Regions from separate parts of the Homo sapiens genome. Here region 2 is linked to region 1. Evidence: fine-mapped expression QTL. Tissue or cell type: whole blood. Region 1 holds a variant in brackets; the other region holds the start of a gene. All regions are shown on one strand. Distances are from middle to middle.

What was found. PIP is the estimated chance that this variant, and not a neighbour inherited with it, causes the effect.
Region 2: CAMKK2 starts here. The variant in region 1 is fine-mapped to the expression of CAMKK2 in whole blood (INTERVAL, PIP above 0.99).

The regions. Positions count from the first base shown.
Region 1 is chr12:121,189,965-121,195,260 of GRCh38, forward strand. All of the region lies in intron 2 of LOC105370032 (a long non-coding RNA gene), which reads right to left. Among named protein-coding and RNA genes, the nearest start is that of P2RX4, 18 kb to the right of the region's middle. RefSeq lists an enhancer at 1-464. The variant T/TA (reference allele first, on the strand shown) is at 3,133.
Region 2 is chr12:121,294,584-121,299,583 of GRCh38, forward strand. CAMKK2 (calcium/calmodulin dependent protein kinase kinase 2) reads right to left here and starts at 2,126. Exons shown (of 17, transcript NM_001270485.2): 1 at 2,055-2,126. RefSeq lists a silencer at 1,662-2,811.

The DNA.
Region 1 (5,296 bases):
CTGCACGGCAAGTGGGGTCTTCCTCCCCGAGCTGTGAGTGTGTGTGACCAAAAACTGCTGCCAATCTCATTTGCCCAGTGTTGGGTGTCATGTGTTCAGCTACCGCCATAACCCTGGGGTGGGAACTGGGAATCCCTCCCTCACCACTGAGGTAAAGAGGTTATTAAAACATCCCTACTTCAGCTGGGTGCGGTGACTCACGCCTGTAATCCCAGCACTTTGGGAGGCTGAGGTGGGTGATCACCTGAGGTCAGGAGTTTGAGACCAGCCTGGCCGACATGGTGAAACCCTGTTTCTACTAAAAATACAAAAAATTAGCCAGGCGTGGTGGCGGGCACCTGTAATCCCAGCTACTTGGGAGGCTGAAGCAGGAGAATTGCTTGAACCCGGGAGGCAGAGGTTGCAGTGAGCCACGATCACACCATTGCACTCCAGCCTGGGCAACAAGAGCGAAACGCTGTCTCAAAAAAAAAAAACACCCTAATTCCAGGCCAACCAGCAGCCCTAAAAAATTAATCTTCGTTTGGCTTCTACCAAAAGTCATGGTCTACACAAAGCCCTGCCTACTAGAGGCAATAAGGAACCATGACCACCACCCCCATTTATTCAAATTACCCACTGGAATGCACCGAGTGGGGTTTCACCCTCTGCTGCTTGTATGTTTCTCAACCCATGTTCTAATCCCATGCAGTCATCATTCAGGAATCCCTGAGGATCCCCTGATTCAACTTCTCTTTTTTGAATAGATTAGAAATTCCTATCTTCTTTCACTTTTACTGTGACTTTTCAGCTTCCTGTTTTCCATTCCTGAGGGCTATGAATCATATTTCCAAAATAAATGATGATCTATGGAGAGGATTTTGCATTTCCAACATCCTTAGCTAATTTTAATGAATTATCATGGTCACATGATCCTAAGGCTTCAGGAATCGGAGGAAGTGGCTGACACTGACTTACCATTTTAACCAAACAATCACTGCACTTAAGCTTGGATAAGGGTCAAATAAAACTAACAGGGCTCTTATGCAAGCCCTTCCAGTCTGGTAAGTTATGAGTATTTATGTTTTATTTCCCCCCAAAAACAATAAGACCCTCAGAGGCAAGGAACTCATCTTGGTTTTTGTCCCTTACACACCTATCTCAGTCCAGTGGTATGATGGGCACTGGAAACAAACCACCTGGTTCAAATCCTGGCTTGGTCACTTATTGGCCAAGTGGCCTGATATGGTTTGGCTGTGTCCCCACCCAAATCTCATCTTGAATTGTTAGCTCCCATAATTCCCATGTGTTGTGGGAGGGACCTGGTGGGAGAGAATTGAATCATGGGGGCGGTTTCCCCCATATTGTTCTCGTGGTAGTGAATATGTCTCACGAGATCTGAGGGTTTTATAAGGGGTTTCTCCTCTTGCTTGGCTCTCATTCTTGTTTTGCCTGCCACCATGTAAGATGTGGCTTTGCTCCTCCTTGCCTTTGTCATGATTGTGAGGCCTCCCCAGCCCTCCCCAGGTGACACATTGGAACTGTGAGTCAATTAAACCTTTCCTATATAAATTATCCAGTCTTTGGTATGTCTTTATTAGCAGTGTGAGAACAGACTAATACATGGCTTTGGGCAGCTTCTCATGTCTAGCCATGGTAGCTATTCTTATGATTTGGATGGTGCCCAAGCATTGCTCTCGAGCTCCAGGCCCATATATTTAACCACCTCCAGATATTCTATACTTAAATGGTTTAGAGGCAATTCAAACAGCTACAAAAGACAAATCATGATCTCAGTTCACCCCACCCACATGTGACTTCCAGAGCTCCCAAGATCAGCCAGTAGCACCACCTGCCATCAGTTCAACTTCCCAAGCCAGAAATTCAAAGGATACCTTGATGTCTCCCTTCTCCTTCCCCGTTCTGTCCAATCTCATCTGTTCATTCAGCAAACACTTACTGAGCACCCCAGCACTGTACAGGAGCTAGGGATGAACAGGTGAATAAGAGAGGCTCTTTGGGAGGTTAGGTGCAGTGGGGCAGACAGGCAATCACGGTGAAAAGAAATGCAGTGAGGACAGCTTGGGATACAGAGTTTGAAAGAAACAAGCAGGATGCTGTGATAGGAGCAAGGGAGTTACTTCTGACAAGGGGCAGGGATAGTGTCTCCAAGGAAGTGACATTTACACTAGATCTGAATATCAAGAAGGAGCCAGCTGTAATGAGTTGAAAGAAGGGCATTCCAGGAAGAGGGATGGAAAACATAAAGCTGAGGGGTGAGAGAGAAATAAGAGTGTTCCAGAGCCTGGTGCAGGAGCACACACATGTAGTCCCAGCGACGAGAGATCATCCCTTAAGCCCAGGAGTTTGAGGCCAGCCTGGGTAACATAGTAATAATCTATCTCAAAAAGAAAAAAAAAGAAAAGAAAAGAAATGAGTGTGCTCCAGGACCTGTCAGATGGCCAGTGCAACTATGCGGTGAGAGACACAGTCTTGCTTGTTTTCTTACTGCCTCCTAAACTGGGTGGTTCCATCTCACTGAAACAGACGCTCAAAGAAAGGCGAAATTCACAGGCAAGCACAGCCTTGGGAGGGTTATGAAGCTGGTGAGATGTAAGCGGGCCCTCACTGGAGGAAGGGGCTGGAAACAGTGGGATGAGAGGAGGCATTCCCAACAGGACCAGCAGCACAAGCCAGGCCCAGAAACAAATGACTATCATAGTGGAGGGAGATTAAATGGGACTGATTTGGGGAAACCTTCAAAAAGAAAAAAAGGCTGAGATGTTTGAACCAGTTGCAAAGTTAAGATGGAGCCGTTCTTGGGGCTGACAGAGGACATGAGAAAAGCAGTGACTTAAGAAATCCCAGCCGGGTGCAGTGGCTCACGCCTGTAATCTCAGCACTTTGGGAGGCCAAGGCGGGCGGATCATGAGATCAGCAAGTGGAGACCATCCTGGCTTACACGGTGAAACTCCGTCTCTACTAAAAATACAAAAAATTAGCCAGGGGTGGTGGCATGCACCTATAGTCCCAGCTTCTCGGGAGGCTGAGGCAGGAGAATCGCTTGAACCTGGGAGGCAGAGGTTGCAGTGAGCCAAGATCGCTCCACTGCACTCCAGCCTGGGTGACAGAGCGAGACTCCTTCTCAAAAAT[T/TA]AAAAAAAAAAAAAAAATCCCTCAGACCGACATGAGGACGTGGGATGGGAGGGGAAGCCTGGGGAAGTGACATCATTTAGAAGTCAGCTGGGATTATATAGGAGTGACTCAGTAAGCCACCTGTGCTACTGAATTGGTGGTGGTGATAGAAAGAAAAGGAAGAGAGATATATATATATGGGGGGTTTTGTTGTTGTTGTTGTTTTTTGGTTGTTGTTGTTTTTGTTTTTGTTTTGTAGAGATACGGTCTCCCTATGTTGCCCAGGCTGGCCTTAAACTCCTGGCCTCAAGCAATCCTCCCGCCTGGGCCTCTCAAAGCTCTGGGATTATAGGTGTGAGCCATCACCCCCAGCCTGGCTAAATGAATTTTTAAAAATTCCTCTGAGTCCAACAGGAGGAGATTGGTTAAGTAAATTATGGCACAGTCATATAACAGGAGGGTATGCAGCTATTTTAAATGATGCCATAGCAAGATAGTTAATGGGCCAGGCACGGTGGCTCACACCTGTAATCCCAGTACTTTGGGAGGCCGAGGCGGGTGGATCACGAGGTCAGGAATTCGAAACCAGCCTGGCCATGTGGTGAAACCCCGTCTCTACTAAAAATACAAAAACCAGCTGGGTGTGGTGGTACGCGCCTGTAGTCCCAGCTGCTCAGGAGGCTCAGGCAGGAGAATCACTTGAAGTCGGGAGGCAGAGGTTGCAGTGAGCCGAGATCATGCCACTCACTGCACACCAGCCTGGGCGACACAGCAGGACTCCATCTCAAAAAAAAAAAGAAGGAAAATCCGATTGATAAAAATCTACATTTACAAAAAAAGTAAATGGGAGGGGCGAGAGTAATTTTTCTTTACAAAGGAGTTCATAAGAAGATAAGATTCCTTCAAGAACATCTGAATGAAATTGTAAGAACTGAGTCCTCCTTTTCAGGAGCTTGTCTATGGAAGAGGCACAGGGATGCGCAGACCCTGGCTGTGAGAACACTTTAGAACTCTTCTTCGTTTCCTTATTTGCAAAAGAAAAGGATTAGGCTAAGCATGCTCTCTAAGGTACTTTTAAATTTTTTATTTATTTGATTTATTTGATTTTTTTGGAGACAAGGTCTCACTCTGTCACCCAGGCTGGAGTGCAGTGGCATGAACACAGTTCACTGTAGCCTCAATCTTCTGGGCTCGACTGATCCTCCTGCCTCAGCCTCCCAAGTAGCTGGGACTACAGGCACATGCCACCATGCCTGGCTAATTTTTTATGTTTTGTAGAGACGAGGTCTCACCATGTTGCACAGGCTGGTCTCAAACTCCCAGGCTCAAATAATCCTCCTGACTTGGCCTCCCAAAGTGCTGGGATTACAGGCGTGAGCCACCACACCCAGCCTGTAAGGTACTTTTAATCTCAAAATGTGAGGATGGGATGGGCACGGTGGCTCACACTTGTAATCCCAGCACCTTGGGAGGCCGAGCTGGGTGGATCACGAGGTCAGGAGTTCAAGACCAGCCTGACCAACATGGTGAAACCCCATTTCTACTAAAAATACAAAAATGAGCCGGGCATGGAGGCGGGCGCCTGTAATCCCAGCAACTCTGGAGGCTGAGGCAAGGAGAATTGCCTGAACCTGGGAGGCTGAGGTTGCAGTGAACCAAGATCACGCCAGCCTAGGTGACAGAGCCAGACTGTCTCAAAAAAAAAAAAAAGTGATAATGATAATAATCTCAAAATGCTCTCTCCATTGTATAAGATGAGACCAATTTGTACCTGACAAGTGCTTGGCAAACCACCCGTAGGTGTCAGTGAATGTACTGCATTAGCTAAGGCTGAAGTCCATACTCTGGCCTCGAAGGCCCTACTCGATCTGGCCTCTGACTGTCTCTCAAGGGGTTAGCTCACATCACTCTCCTCCTTGCCCACTATGCTCCATTCATATTGACTTTCCTTCTGTTCCTGGAACATATCAAGCTCATTCCTACCTCAGGGACTCTGCACCTGCTATTCCCTTTGCCTAGAATACTTTCTCCTAGGAAAAGTATTCAGAGAGCTAGCTCCTTCCTGACATCCAGATCTCAGCTCAGATGGACTTTCTCAGAAAGGGCCTCACTCAAGCTATCAAGCTATCAGATATAGAAGGTACATTCTTTTTTTTTTTTTTTTTTTTTTTTGAGATGGAGTCTC
Region 2 (5,000 bases), 100 kb after region 1:
TCTCTGCTCTTGAACAGGTGCACAAAGGTTCTAAGGCCTGACATGCCTGCACTGGCTGTGTGACCCTGAGCAAGTTACTTAACTTCTCTGAGCCCTTCTATAAAATGGGGCTAAATCCTAGCAACACTGCAGGATTTCTGTAAACCTCAGTCTCCTAATCTCTACTATGGGGTTAAAATTCCCTACGTTGTAGGATTTGGTAGGCATTAAATGAGATAATGCATGTAACACATAGCACAGAATCTGGCAGGCAGCAAGAACTCAATAGATGTTAGTTTTTAATACTGTTATTATTATTATTGTCCAGGGCCAGGTGGCAGCTCATGCCTGTAATCCTAGCACTTGGGAGACTGACGTAGGCGGATCACTTGAGGTAAGGAGTTCAAGACCAGCCTGACCAACATGGTGAAACCCCTTCTCTACTAAAAATACAGAAATTAGCCAGGCATGGTGGTGGGCGCCTGTAATCCCAGCTACTGGAGAGGCTGAGGCATGAGAATCGCTTGAACCCGGGAGGCGGAGGTTGCAGTGAGCCAAGATTGTGCCACTGCACTCCACCCTGGGCAACAGAGACTCCGTCTCAAAATAAATAAATAAGTATTCTTATTATTATCCAAGTTAGGGGCTCATCAAATGATGGCTATTACTCTTCATTACAAAAATATGTTTTGCGTCCTCATCACCAATGCCTGCTTCCTCCATAGGAAGGGTGTGTGTCACCAATGCCTGCTTCCTCCATAGGAAGGGTGTATGAGCAGCAGTCTGGAAGGGGTATGTGGGGCTTGCCCTAAAGCTGCATTTGCATGGCATGCACACTATTTATTCTGAAACTGCATGTTTTTGTGGGGTGATTAGGGAAGAGGGTGGCTAACTCCCCCAAAGCCCTCCCCTTGTTGCAGCCCCCGCCTCCTCCAAGGAACAAAGGAGCTTATGGGGACATAAAGCCATCCTCTTCTCTCTCCTCTGGGGGCAGAGCTAGGGGAGGGGGAGTGGTAAATGGCAGCACAGCTCTAGGGCACCTGAAGTTTCTATCCCCTGCGTGGAGACTCCAAACACCAGGCTGGGGAAGGTAAAAGTAGCCTGTAGGGAGATGGACGCTGCAGGTCCCATCCGGAGGCCAGGTATCCCTCTCTTGCTGATAGCACTGAGACGCCCTCCCCAAAGCTCAGCCTTCTCGGGGAGATCGGAGGGGCTGAGCTGCATCCTGTCCAGCACTAAGTGAGAGTGGCCAGGAGGGCAGGCTGGCAGAGCTGTGAAAGCACCCACTTCCCCAGCTAGGCAGTGCAGGGGCTGGGGGAAAGCCAGGAAAAGCTCAAGGCTGGGTCGGGTGGCACCCCAGGCACAGAGCCCCAATGCTGAGAGGGGCTGGGTCCAGTGTCCCTGAGAGTCAGGCGGACGCCTCTCCGCATTCACAGCATACTGCAACCCCGAGGTGAATTTAGGTCAGAAGGACCAAGCCTGTGAGGCTCCGGCTGAGAGAAGAGGTGCGGTGGGGGTGGTCAAAGGGCAGACCGAAGACAGCCAAAGGTCCCCTAGGTCCCCACAACTGCTGGCCTAGGGTCCTGCCACCTGGTGTCCAAGCCACCAGGGCCTGGGTTTGCCCCGAGACAGGCAGGCTGCGGGGTGGGGGTGCTCCAAGTCCGCTGGTCCTCTCTTCCCCGGAACGCTCCAGATTTCCCCACCTGTCAAACGCGAGGGGCTGGGCCTAGGCCGCCTCCACGAACCCTGACGGACCCGGCCCCCGGTGACCCCGGTTCCAAACTCCAGGACCGCCCCTGCCACCCGGACAGGGCGCGGCCCAGCCGAGGAGGCCATCCCGAGGCCCAGGGCGCCCAGAGGACGCGGGGGAAGGGCTGTCGGGGACCGTGTCCCTCCACGTGGCGGGGCGTGGGGAGGCGCACGTGGGGTCCCTCCGTGTTGGGAGCCCCAGGCCAGCCTCCGGGCTTTGTGTGCCATGCCGGCGGCGGTCCCCCGCCTCGAGAGGGAAACGGAGCGGGCGCCCGGGGCCGCGGCGGCTGCGTCCCTTGCCCCGGGCCCGGCTACCGCCAGCTCACCTGGGCTCCGCGCCGCCGCCGCCTCCCGCGCTCTGCGCCCCCAGCTCGGCTCGGCTCGGCTCAGCTTGCTCTGCGCGGCCGCGCGCTCCTCTCCTCCGCCCGGGCGGCGGGCGCGCGGGGGGCGGGGGCGGGAGGAGCCGCCCGGCTCGGCTTGGGCGCGTCGCCGCCCCGGGCAGCGCGGGGATTGGCCACGGCGGCGGGAAACCCGAAAGCGGAACCGCCCGCGCCCGCCGCGCACCGCCCCCTGCGCGCCCCCGCCGGCTCGGCCCTGCGCCGGGGAGGGGTGGGGAGGCGGGAGCCTGCAAAGACGAAAGTAGCGAAGAGGCGAAGGGCAAGGAGCAGAAAGGGAGGAGGCGAAGAACGGGGGAAGAGAGGCCCGGCCGGGAGGATCGGAGGCGGCTGGGAGGAGAGCCTGGAGGGGCGCGGAGCGCAGGAGGTGGCGCCGCAACTTTGTACCCGCTCGCCCGCGGCGCGCACCTGCCCAGGTTCTTCCCGCGGCGCCCTCGGGCGGGCCGCGCCGGCAGCGCTTGCTTTGTTTAGCCAAATGCCGGGGCTGCAGGGCGCCTCCGGGCTGACCCTGGGAAAGTTCCCCCAAGCCGGCAAGAACACCCGGGGCCCCTCCTGTGGCGACCCGGCTGCTGCCCCTGCGCTAGGCGCCGGGCGGTGGATGCGGCCTGGACTTTGGGCCACCACCGACTCGGGGGAGCCCCCTTCCGCAGCTGCCTGCCGACTGACCACTTGCTCAGGGCCGGCCCTAAAGGCTGGGGGAAGGCGTTCCTCTCCCATCCCCAGCCCACCTGGATGCACCATTGAAGTTCATTCTGGCTTTTCCAGATGGCTACTTAGATGCTTTTTGTGAAATACAGCATATTCTTCCCATTCTCCCCTTTTTGGCACTTACTTTGCTGGAGCCTTAAGTGTGCGTTGGATCCCCCAGCTGGATAACAGCACTGTGCGGGGAAGAGGAGAAACGAAGACCTGGAGGGCTCCCTGAACCGTCCTACGGGGTCGAGCGACCCAGGGGATGTCTCACTGACCCTGCCAAACAGCCAAAAGGGAATCGAGTTGACAGGAGAGTCAACCTCCAAGTTAATAAAAGGTTCAAAGCCCTCTAGTTAACTGGGTGGATTTCCAGCCCGTTCCGATGTGCTTCTCTTGTATTTCTAGGCCGTAGGGACACTCACATGCAACGAGCCAATGAGAGCTCCACCCCGACTCCCTTTTTTTTTTTTTTTTTTTTCTTTTCTGAAACGGAGTCTCGCTCTGTCGCCCACGCTGGAGTGCAGTGACGCGATCTCGGATCACTGCAACCTCTGCCTCCCAGGTTCAAGCAGTTCTCTGCCTCAGTCTCCCGAGTAGCTGGGATTACAGGCGCCGGCCACCATACTTGGCTAATTTTTGTATTTTTCGTAGAGATGGGGTTTCACCATGTTGTCCAGGCTAATCTTGAATTCCTGACCTCGTGATCCACCCGCCTTGGCCTCCGAAAGTGCTGGGATTACAGGTGTGAGTCACCGCGCCCGGCCCACTCCCATTTTTTTTTCTTTGTTTTTTTTGTTTGTTTGTTTGTTTGTTTGTTTGTTTGTTTTGAGACAGGGTCTCTCTGTGTTGCCCAGGCTGGAGTGCAGTAGCACGATCACGGCTCGCTGCACCCTCGACCTCCCCAGGCTCAGGTGATCCTCCAGCCTCAGCCTCCTGAGTAGCTGGGACTACAGGCACACACCACCACACCTGGCTAATTTTTTCTATTTTTTGTAGAGACAGAGTTCTCCCTATGTTGCCCAGGCTGGTCTCAAACTCCTGGGCTCAAGTGATCCTCCTGCCTCTGCCTCCCAAAGTGCTGGGATTATAGGCATGAGCCAACATGCTCGGCCATCCACCTCTTCTGATGTTACTCAACGTGCATGCATTTGCTGGAAATGGCAAAAACCTGAGGCCGGGCATGGTGGCTCACGCCTATGATCCCAGCACTTTGGGAGGCCCGGGCGGAGAGATCACTTGAGGCCAGAAGTTCGAGACTAGCCTGGCCAGCATGGTGAAACCCCATCTCTATCAAAAATACAAAAATTAGCCCGGTGTGGTGGCGGTGCCCGTAATCCCAGCTACTCAGGAGGCTGAAGCACGAGAACCACTTGAACCGGGAGGCAGAGAGATCGCACCACTACCCTCCAGCCTGGACGACAGACCAAGACTGTTTCAAAAAAAAAAAAAAAAGTCTGGGCACAGTGGCTCACGCCTGTAATCCCAGCACTTTGGGAGGCCAAGGTGGGCAGATCACGAAGTCAGGAGTTCAAGTCCAGCCTGACCAGCATGGTGAAACCCCGTCTCTACTTAAAAAAAAAATGCAAAAATTAGCCAGGCATGGTGGCGCGCGCCTGTAATCCCAACTACTCAGGAGGCTGAGGCAGGAGAATCGCTTGAAACCCGGGAGGCAGAGGTTGCAGTGAGCCGAGATCATGCCACTGCACTCCAGCCTGGGTGACAGAGCAAGACTCCATCTCAAAAACAAAACAAAACAAAACAAAAACACAAAAAAAAAACCACCTGGGAACAACTTCCTATATGTTCATCAAAGGAATGGATAAATGAAACTCATTATAGTTGTTTGATGGAATACCATCTAATAGATAAAAGGGGTGCACTGGATCTGTACTGACATAAGGAAATCCCAAAAACATAATGTTGAGTAAAACAGCAAGTTGCAGAATACAACATGATGTACAATTTGTGTGTACCTTAAAATCCCATGCAGTAGATACTGTTCATGGACACATGCTTACATACAAGATTTTTAAAGTCAAAGAGAAGAATATACATTAAATTCATGACAGTGTGCCACAAAGAAGGAAAAAAGCACAGAACGGGACAGGGAGCATAAGGAATGTTGTAAAGTTTTATTCCTTTTAGTACTTATAAATGGCTGTGAGGCAAATGGCAAACTGTTAG